3 linked regions of the Homo sapiens genome follow. The gene in region 2 interacts genetically with the main gene of each other region. Each region holds a gene or a part of one and is shown on either strand. Other genes may lie near its edges. The genes, in order: CTNNBL1, TUBGCP4 and TCOF1.

The links.
Region 1: changes in TUBGCP4 (region 2) and CTNNBL1 together harm fitness less than expected from each alone (positive genetic interaction), as found in Homo sapiens cells (one large-scale study listed by BioGRID).
Region 3: changes in TUBGCP4 (region 2) and TCOF1 together harm fitness less than expected from each alone (positive genetic interaction), as found in Homo sapiens cells (one large-scale study listed by BioGRID).

What each region holds. Positions count from the first base shown.
Region 1 is NC_000020.11:37,735,525-37,739,176, reverse strand, and holds part of CTNNBL1 (beta-catenin-like protein 1), read right to left. Parts: intron 1,800-3,652; coding exon 1,693-1,799; intron 1-1,692. UniProt on the Homo sapiens protein: Component of the PRP19-CDC5L complex that forms an integral part of the spliceosome and is required for activating pre-mRNA splicing.
Region 2 is NC_000015.10:43,405,449-43,409,100, forward strand, and holds part of TUBGCP4 (gamma-tubulin complex component 4), read left to right. Parts: 3' UTR 1-1,934; coding exon of another isoform or gene 1,935-2,122; 3' UTR 2,123-2,486; coding exon of another isoform or gene 2,487-2,640; 3' UTR 2,641-3,448; coding exon of another isoform or gene 3,449-3,648; 3' UTR 3,649-3,652. Other genes in the region: TP53BP1 (TP53-binding protein 1), read right to left, coding at 1,935-2,122, 2,495-2,640, 3,449-3,648. UniProt on the Homo sapiens protein: Component of the gamma-tubulin ring complex (gTuRC) which mediates microtubule nucleation.
Region 3 is NC_000005.10:150,378,128-150,381,779, reverse strand, and holds part of TCOF1 (treacle protein), read right to left. Parts: intron 2,876-3,652; coding exon 2,738-2,875; intron 2,552-2,737; coding exon 2,372-2,551; intron 2,249-2,371; coding exon 2,048-2,248; intron 1-2,047.

The sequences.
Region 1 (3,652 bases), on a different chromosome or scaffold from region 2:
ACTCATGTACCACTGGTATTTTCAGAATGACAATCTATTCATGCATTACTTGTGTAATTACACACACACACACACACACACACACACACACACACACAGTGCTCCTGTATGGTGGAGATCAGTACAAAACCTGATAGGACTCTAATGCTGGATAAGCTGGGCCCTGATCTATTAATAGCTACTCCTACTATCAAAGAGGGCTGTGGCCCTAGGCCCAGTAACCACATTCTCCCCACTCTGCCTTCTCATCCACAGCACAGGGACAACATAGTTGACCACGCTGGCCTCTCTAGGTTGCCATGAAGACTCTGTGCCCGCTGACACCTCTGTGCCTTTGTTCATGCTCCTCATATTGCCTGGCATGCCTTCCTGTGTTCTTTTCCGCCTAATAAAAATGAATCTTCAAGGCCCAGCTCAACTACTATCTTTTCTGTGACACCCTCAATAGCCCCCAACTTGGTATTTACTGTTTCTTCTCCTATTATATCTCTTTTAAAGTGTCTGTTTCCTTCTACCTTGCCTTTATAGTCAGTCTCCCTAGTAACCTAAAAACTTGAGTGCAAAGCCTGTACTACTCAATTGTTAATTGCCTGGGGGCCTTGGGCATATTAAGATTCATTAAAATTGTATGTCCTGGGAGGGACAAAGATAGGGAAAGAAAGAGAGGTTTAGAACATTAAAATCGTATAAATGTGAAAGTCCCCTTGGTTAGGATTCAAGACTGACTGAAAGATGCCAGATTCCTCACATAGCACTTCATAGTGCACCAAGGTGCCAGTGTAGTAAAACTCACGTTAACTATCATCTCATGGGCACCTACTATGTGCCAGGTACTAAGCTAAACACTTACATTATTCTCCTTTAATCTTCATACAACCCTGTGAGGAAGGCATTATTTCCTTATACAGATGAGACACCCAAGGCTAAGAAAGGGGAAGTAACTTATTCAAAGGGATGTGTGTATCACACCAATATCTGTCTAACTTCAGAGCCTCTGAAATGATCTCCACAGTAAAGCTATCACTAACGGCAGGCACGATCAGTCTTCTTTGGGCACTGAAAAGAATAATGCAGGAGAGTTAATATGTTAACTGCGGGGCTGATCTTGAAAAGGGCTAGCTTACAAGGCTGGCCCTAGGCTGGCAGCCAGGAATTTGGCTTTTGAAATGTTCCCTAAGTGATAAGGTTGCTGCTTTGTCAGCCCGGGGCACTGAACAGCTGCTTTCCTTCCAGGAGCCTACAATTTTGGTTGTTATTGTTATTACAGGCAGAGAATGCCTACATGACCAGTCCTCCATAAAAACCCTGAACTCAGAGTCTGAAATGGGCTTCCCTGGACAGCATCACTGCACACATGTTGATGCATTTCATTGCTGAAGAAAGAAGCATGTTTGTATAATCCCACCCACTGGGAAGGAGAAAACATAGGAAGCCTGTATCTGAATTTCTCCAGATGCCACCTGATGTGTCTTTTTCTCTTGCTGATCCTGTTGTGTGCCCTGTGTAATAAACCACAGCCCTGAGTATCACTGACTTTGAGTCCTGGGAGTCCTTCTAGTGAATTCCCAAACATGGGGGTCATCCTGGGATTCCTGGCCCAAATCACAAAAGCCAAAACAAACCAAAATCAAAACAAAATTAGCCAACGAAACGCCACAGAGGAGACATGGTATCAGTGGAACAGAACCTTACTTCTCTGGATTGTCTGGAAACTTAATCCGCAATTCTTGGTTTTTATATGATCTCTTTTCAAATGTGAGGATCATTTTCTTCACTGAGCTTTCATCCAATGGCTCCTCCTGGTACAAAGAGACAAATGCAAAAACTTCAGTCCACAGGGGTTTCACATTCATTGTCACTACTTTCCTGTGGCTCTTATACCCCACCTCACTCTGCCATTGACCTTTCTGGGTTCAATGTACAGTACACTTTTTTTGTTTTGTTTTGTTTTTTGAGATGGAGTCTTGCTCTGTCGCCCAGGCTGGAGTACAGTGGTATGATCTCAGCTCACTGCAATCTCTGCCTCTCAGGTTCAAGCGATTCTCCTGCCTCAGCTTACCGAGTAGCTGGGACTACAGGCACATGCCCCCATGCCCGGCTAATTTTTTTGTATTTTTAGTAGAGACAGGGTTTCTTCGTGTTAGCCAGGATGGTCTCGATCTCCTGACCTCGTGATCTGCCCACCTTGGCCTCCCAAAGTGCTGGGATTACAGGTGTGAGCCACTGTGCCCGGCCACAGTACACACTTTATCTCTCTAATTACAATGAGGAGTAAGGGCCTGTAATCACATGCTTCTTTTCGGGTATATCACATTGGGTGTCTCACACAATGCCCACTATCTGTAACACAGAAAATTCGGTTTGAGGTGTTAAAGACTGGGCACTTCAGCACTTCAGGAGTCCAAGGTGGGCAGATCACTTGAGGTCAGGAGTTCAAGACCAGCCTGGCCAACATGGCAAAACCCCATCTCTACTAAAAATACAGGCACATGCCTGTAGTCCCAGCTACTCGGGAGGTTGAGGCATGAGAATCACTTGAACCTGGGAAGCAGAGGTTGCAGTGAGCCGAGACTGTGCCGCTGCACTCCGGCCTGGGTGAGAGAGGGAGACTCTGTCTCAAAAAAAAAAGAAAAGTTGTTAAAGACTCACTCATTCAACAAATATTTCTTGAGCACACTGTATGGCAGAGAGTAAGCAACAATATTAGATAATATTATTATACATTTACCTTGTCATCCTTTGCTATACATGTAAGATAAGACTGACAGGTTTAAAAGAATTGTTTAAGGTCAAACTCTGAGTCAGTGACAGTGACCCTTAATCTTTTCCTACAGCAGAAGTTGGCAAACTGCAGCCCATGAGCCAAATCCAACCTACTGCCTGTTTTTCCACAGTGCGTAAACTAAGAACGGTTGTTAATTAGCTATAGTCACTGCTTAGCATTTCTTATATATTACTTTGCCTGGTACTTACTAGATGCTGAGAAGGAATTCAGACAGGTACTTTGAACCCTGAAGTAGCATCAAGAATTTAGTAACCTTGCCTAGAGAATGCAAAAAAAAGCTAGTAGACTGTACAGAATTTTCTGGCTTCATACATTGGAATAATACCTATGAAAGCAAATAAAATGAATATTTGAAAACTAAATCATTTTTTCTCCAAAAAATCTACACTGAAATTTCACACGTTTTATCTTCAGTTTCCTTCCAGTTTAAATTAATGTGCTGCAATGCACCCTGCTTCTCTTCATACTATCCCAACTCAAAGCTTCACAGCTTTGTAGTCATTGACCATAACTCACACCTAAAAGCAATAAAGAAACTGCTATTAAGAGAACCTGAAATAGATCCTTTTGGAAAGCACTGAATCATCCCATAATTTTATAAGTACTCAAAAATGTTAGCTATTATTCTATTATTAAATTTCTATTTCCACATATGGGGTTTTAAGTGGGAGCTACCCATAAATTCATTTTCAGCATGACACATTTATTAGATTATACCAATGACTCCTAGATCCCAAGGTTCTCTATTGAACCCCTACCTCCTCCCCAGGGTCTACAGCTTAAAGACAGGTTCCCTGACACAGTAAAAACAAGTCAGAGTCCTGGCTCAGTCAAGACTCAGAGCCTAGCTTCACTACTTACTAGCCA
Region 2 (3,652 bases):
TTGAGAACATTTGTTGGATATGTTCATTTATTCAATAGTCATTTATTGAGCACCTACTACGTACCTTGGTACTGTTCAAGCTGTGGGAGATACAGCGGTAAACAAACAATATAGAGCAGAAAGTTAAATATTTTATGGTTCATATGTGAAAAAGTAATTATGTTTATAAATAGACTAACTGCTGGATGTTACCACCAAGTAAGAAAGCAACAGGTAAGATAGGCTTTCTCTCTCCCTATACCAAGTAATTTATACCTACACAGATTGGGCAATTCTAGCTAATGAAAATATACTTAAAAGTATTTCTTAGGCCGGGCATGGTGGCTCACACCTGTAATCCCAGCACTTTGGGAGGCCGAGGCGGGCGGATCACCTGAAGTCAGGAGTTTGAGACCAGCCTGACCAACATGATGAAACCTCGATTCTACTAAAAATACAAAAATTAGCCAGGTGTGGTGGCATGTGCCTGTAATCCCAGCTACTCAGGAGGCTGAGACAGGAGAATTGCTTGAACCTGGGAAGCAGACGCTGCAGTGAGCTGAGATTGTGCCATTGCATTCCAGCCCGGGCAACAAGAGCGAAATTCCGTCTCAAAAAAAAAAAAAAAAAAAAAAAAAGTATTATTCTCCAAGAAAAAGGTCCTTAAGAAAAAATTGAGATCAAGTTGTTAGATTTTTAAATACTGAAGATTGCAGGCCCAATTACCCATCTTACACAAACCATAGGGGTTGAAGTTATCTTAATATGGCCCAGCCATCACTGGTAATCAATATTCATATCAGTGTAAGTAAAAAGAAATATTCACTGAACAACGCCCTCCAAACTGAAAAAGAATGCAGTGTTCTGGCATCAGGTTATAGTCACTGCATCTGGTTTTCATCACTACATATTCTACACACACTGGGAAGCTCTGACAACTTATTCCCTGCTATTATCAACTAAAGATCACCCTTTCTACTGCTGTCTCTGGAGCAGGAGCTGGCAAACTATGGCCTGCTGTCTGTTTTTGTACAGTTTTACTGAAACACAGCCATGCCCATTTGTTTACTCATTGTCTATGGTTGCTTTCATGCCCTCACAGCAAAGGCGAGTAGTTGTGATGGATCAAATGGCCCACAAAGCCTGAAATATTTACTCTTTGACCCTTTACAGAAAAAAACCTTGTTGACCCCTGCTTTAGAGAATGAGAAGCCATGCAGGGATCAGTGATGCCAGAGGAAGGGAAGGAACTGCTTCCAGCTATTGTGACAATAATAATAATAATAATATTGGGTCTTTGACTAGAACGTGTAACATTTCCAGGTGTTCTCACTTGTGCTTCCCATGTTTATCTTACGGAAGGTCATTCCATCAAGCTTATGGTCACTGTCCCTTCATGGCAGTTGGTCCTTTCGTTCTCCCTTTAGCTCTAAGAGTTGGGGAGTACCCACAGGTGAGCTGTGATCTCAGCTCAGAGAGAGAGCATGAGGTCTTTTTTAACTGTCAGGAAACAGAGCTGTGCCCAATTCCACTCAACTTTTGGCACAACTGTTAATCTGGGCCTTCACCTACCTTAAACTGAGTTTCTGCAAGCATAGCATTTTAGACACCCTGGAATAACCTTTTGGGAATGATGCCACAGAATAAAGTTCACTCTTAACTTTTCAATTTCCTTGGCCAGCTGTCCTCCGTAAGTGAATAAGCCTGTTGAAAGACTCAGAGAAAGTACTATGTCTTGTCATTTGTTCTGAGATTAAGCTCAAAAAAACAGATGAAGAAATCCCAGTTACTACAACCAAAGAGATTCAACATTTATTTTATCATAAAAGTTCAGCAAATAAAACTATATACAAGATCCATGCAAGGAATCCAGTTACACACAAGACACATTTAAAACCTGGTTAAAACACAATCTCCACGATAGCAGGGAATAAAACCAGTAAGACCAAGTATCTTTAGTGAGAAACATAATCGTGTTTATATTTTGGATGCTGCTTGAATCCAATTCTCTCCCCAACAATGAGGCACTGGATCACCCACTCTTGTGACACCACAGGCAGCTGCAATGCTTCAGCACACTTCAGCACCGAGGCTGGGCATGAGGGGTCCGTCACCACCACATCAAATACCCCTAAAGCAATATCTGCAAGGAGCAAGGGAAAGTGAAGAAGGAAAGGACACTCAACTTAGCCCTCCATTAGAAAGAGAGATTTGATTCTAACCAATACATCCCACTCTGCACAAACCAAAGCCCTATTATGTCAAACACACTGCTACTGATCATGACCAAAGGCAGAGTTATAATCACTATGTGCTGACCTTGTAGAAATATTTAACAAATATACGTCCAGTGCTTCACTTATGTTGACTCACCTCTTGAAGGTGGTACTTTTCTTCTCTAAGAAACATGGATACGGTCAACCTATTAGGCCTGAGCCTTGGACCACAAGGCCTAACACCTACAGGTCTAAGGAGATCCCTGGAACAAAGACACTACACACACTCTTTCAGGTACCTTTGTTATGGGCACTTGAATGGTGCTGCTTCACAGAGGCTGCACCACCAGTCATGAGGATCTCAGACCAGAGCTCCAGGAAGTTCTGCTGTTGGTCTGATACCAAGAGTACCTTCAGATTCTGGAAAGGATTTTCACGGGGTTGCCTATGAAGGAGACAGGAAAGGACCTTAGCATGACAAGTAATATCCAACAAACTGCCTTTCTGCAAAGGGACTCATGTACATCTGAATGCTTTCAAAAATAAATGCCCCATCAGACATAGTGTCTCAAGCCTGTAATCCCAGCACTTTGGGAGGCTGTCGTGGTTGGATCTCTTGGGCCTGGGAGTTCGAGACCAGCCTGGGCAATGTGGTGAGACCCCATCTCTACAAAAGACAACAAAAAAATTAGCTGGGTGTGGTGGCGAGTGCCTGTAGTCCCAGCAGCTTGGGAGGCTGAGGTAGGGGGATCACTTCAGCCTGGGAGGTTGAGGCTGCAGTAAGTCGTCACTGCGCCACTGTACTCCAGCCTAGGTGACAGAGCAAGACTTCATCTTAAAAAACTAAGCCCTATATTAGGGTCCCCCTTCTCTTCCTTCTTTCTATGAATGATCTGTATTCCTTGCATTCCTGGCTTTCTAATTTCCATGTTTGTTCTGGGGCTGAGAATAATCCAAATCATGCTCCTGAGCCTATATATTTTTAATGCTTGCTTAAAACTTAGTTCTCTGACTTTACAGGTTGAGAATATTGAACCTATATACAAATCTTCACACATTTGCAAAAGGTTCCTAGCCAATGTAACCTAGGGAAATAAACTAGATAAACTCCTGAAGTCATTTCAAACCCACTCAAATTTATCCCACAGACATTCCAATTTCTAGAAAGCTTTACTCTCTCACCTAGATTCTCTTCCCTCCAAAGCTTGCTGTCCTCCTGCCTATACAATTCTGGATGGGCTTCAAATACTTACCAGTCCAGAATTCTTTGCTCCTCAAGGCTGTACCCAGCTGGCAACAGATAATTACGGTAGTTCTGGAGCTGGTTGGCATGGCAACTATCATGGACCCAGACATGAGACACACAAGGAATCCCACTGGCAAGGCACAGGAAGTACTTCCGGGTTCGACAATGCTGATCCGCAATTAGAAGACACTGGTAAGCTGTGTTACACTGC
Region 3 (3,652 bases), on a different chromosome or scaffold from region 2:
TTGTGCACTTTAAGACAGTCAATCCCCTTATTTAAGCTCTTTTGAATGGGGCTTTCTCCTACAGATTAGGCCATTCTGACTAAGAACTCATTGAAAACTTAAAAACAAAAAAACTACACAGCCCAAAATATGGCCGGGGCCTATGTCTTAGTCTGGCATTTAGGTCCTCCATAAATCTACCAGTAACAAGCACCTGGGAGGGCCTACGGCCTGCAGGACAGCTGCCTTCAGTGACCATGTGCCTTCATGCCCAGCCCCTCTGCACACACTGAGGGGCCTTCTCCACTTTTGTGCCTGGTCATCCTTCAGGTTCAGCTCAATCATCTCCTCCTTTTCTGGCCTCTCAGAGACCTGCTCTTTCAGCTGTCAGCACCACTAGCATAGTCTGCGATAATCCGGTCACCTGTCTTGCCCCACAGACTGTGAGCTCCTTGAGGGTGGGGCCAATGTCTTTCACCCCCAGTAATTGTTGGTTTGGTGTATCAAAGGCAGAGGTTAGGGCTAGGGAGCATTCATCTCAGTGCTTGTTTTACTCATGAAGAAAACAAATCTAAGAGGTTATGGAGCTTGGCCTGGCACAGGGACTTCCAGCTTCCCTTAAGAAATGGAAGACCTGGCCACACAGAAGGTCCATCTCCACAGTCATGACTGGCTGAAGCTGATAAGAACTGCCCCTCTGGATGGGGCAAGGGCTCTCCGGTCTGCCCTACTTGCTACCACTATCTACCATCTCTCCTGACATTTATCATCTCTTTTTTTTATTTTTGTGACAGAGTCTCACTCTGTTGCCCAGACTGGAGTGCAAAGCAATGGCATGATCTTGGCTCACTGCAACCTCTGCTTCCCGGGTTCAAGCGATTCTCCTGCCTCAGCCTCCCGAGTAGCTGGGACTACAGACGCCTGCCATCACGCCTGGCTAATTTTTGTATTTTTTTAGTAGAGACAGGGTTTCACCATGTTGGCCAGGCTGGTCTCGAACTCCTGACCTCATGATCCGCCCGCCTTGGCCTCCCAAAGTGCTGGGATTACAGGCTTGAGCCACCGCACCCGGCCGACATCTATCATTCCTGCCAGGCCTGCATCAGTCATTTCCATCACACACCTGTGCCTTGGCAGTGCTGGAGTTTGTCATCCTACACTTCTGTAGGATGTAGCAAGCCCTGCTATCTTCTGCAAGCAGACAGAGGGAATTGTTCAGATTTTCTTTCTCCCCACTCTCCAGGGTCCAGGCTTTGCACTAAGCTAGACAAGCCCTGCCTGAGAAGATGCGCCTGCCTATGTGAGGCTCCGGGCCAAGGTGCAGGATGAGACTTCCTCCATCTCTCCAGGACCTCAGGGGGACCTGTGCCACACTCCAAGCTTCCCTGGGACTCTGACAGGGAGAGTCATTTTGTATAACGTTAACGTATGCACAATAACTAACATGTAGATTCTTGGTCTCATATGCCTTGGTGGGAAATACTGGCCTAGCTTATAGAGCTGGTGGAGACCTCGACCTAGATATAGACCCAGGACACTTTTAGCTACGGAAGTCTTCGTTTGGGGGGTTTTAGTAGCAGGTTTTACCTAAGGAGATGTGGATGACAGCAGACGGAGGAGGGCATGGTGGAACTGGAGCCTTAAGCCTTAACCTGGCCTTCCTTTCTTTTCCTTACCTGGCCCTAAACCCTGGTTTTTCACTTTTCTTTTTTTTCTTTTTTTTTTTTTTTGAGACAGTCTCACTCTCATCACCCAGGCTGGAGTGCAGTGGCATGATCTTGGCTTGCTGCAGCCTCCGCCTCCCAGGTTCTAGGGATTCTCCTGCCTCAGCCTCCCGAGTAGCTGGGATTACAGGCACCCGCCACCATGCCCAGCTAATTTTTATATTTTTAGTAGAGACGGGGTTTCACCATGTTGGCCAGGCTGGTCTTGAACCCCTGACCTCAAGTGATACATCTGCCTCGGCCTCCCAAAGTGCTAGGATTACAGGTGTGAGCCACCACGCCCAGCCCTATACCCCCGTTCTGAGGAGTGAGTGTTGGTGGCTCAGAGGCCTGGCAAGTCTTACCTGGGCAGAGGTCACAGCTGCCGGTGCCTCCCCATCACTGTCTGATTCCTCGCTGCTGCTCCCTGAGTCATCCTGCTTCCCTGCCTGGGCAGCCGAAGGCCCTGTCTTCCCAGGAGGTGTTGGGGCAGCCCCTTTCCTGGGGGACTCCTTGGCAGGAGCCAAGGCAGCTCTGATCTGGTGGGTCTTCCCTGAAGGCTTCACCTGGAGGGAGAAACAGGATGAGAGGAGAGAGCCTGGAGGGTGGACGTGTGAGAAGACAGGAGCTGGATGTGGCAAAGGTGTTACATCCCATGTAGGGGATGATCTCCATTCCCTCCCCCTCACCTGAGCCAGCGTCTCCGCCTCCTCCTCACTGTCTGACTCCTCCTCACTGCTCCCTGAGTCCTCCTCTGGCCCTGTCTGGGCCTGAGCTGCTGTAGCCACGGCCTTCCCCACAGATGGCACAGATGCTGGGCCCCTCGCCAAGACGGTACTGTTCTGGGGGTTTCTCACTGGTGGCTTCACCTGAATTGCAGGGGGATAATAGTATTGGAGGCAAAAGTGATTCCTTTCAGGTCCCACTCCCCACTATGGCACAACTCTGGGTGGGTGGCCTGCCCATGCACGCACCTTCTCCTGGCTGGGCTCAGTGACTGGTCCTCCTCTCTACCCCAACCCTCCACACCTCCTGTGGCTTCTGGCCCCACTTGCCTTGGATGGAGACCTCTGCTTGGCTTGAGCAGCTGCAGTGACAACTTTTCCAGGGGCTGAAATTGTCCCTTTTGCTGAAGGTGCTCTGGCGGCAGCTGGGTTGGCTTTGGCCTGGGTTTTCTTTACTGAGGTTTTCACCTGAGTGGAGAAAAGGGAATTAAGGAGGGAGAAGGTGAGATTGAGTAAAGCAGCTAGCCAAGAATACAGACTCTGGAGCTGGAGCCCGAGTCTGGATTCTGGCTCCTCCATGCAATAGGCGTGTGAACCTGAGCTCATCACTTGATCTCACTGGGCCTCAGTTCAGTCCTCTATCAAATGGAGATAATAATAAGGCCCACCTACGGGTTATGATGAAGACTAAATAGGAGATTCAGAGTTTAACATGATGTCTGGAACATAATAAACACTCAAACTCATTGTGCGTGCCTTCCTTAGCATTAGCTAAGCACAAGACTACCTAAAACAGATGTTTTCCAGGCTCCCTTTCAGCTAGGTGGCAATGTCATTAAATTCTGGCTCATAGGATGTAAGTTGAGTGCCATAAAAGGTCAGAAACATGTCTCTTCCTCCTCCAGGCTAGATGGAATGCTGAGGTCAGAGCTGGAGCTCAAGCAGCCACGGCAGAACAAGATACTTGTTGTTTAAGGTTTTCTTCAGCTTAATCTAGCCTTAACCGATATCCAGAGAACCCCCAAAAGGCCTGTCAGGGATTCCAACAAATAGAAGGAGAACAAAAAAAAAGGGAAATTCCCAGAGTGAGATCCTTAACAGGAGTGACAGCAAGCCTAATGTGAAACAGAATGAGGACTCTGGCAGCATCTCAAGGCCCCTGCCTCACTCAGGGATGGCATCTGGTCAGTGTCAGAAAACAACCCCATCCCCCAGCATTCCTCAAACACATGAGGTCAAATGAGG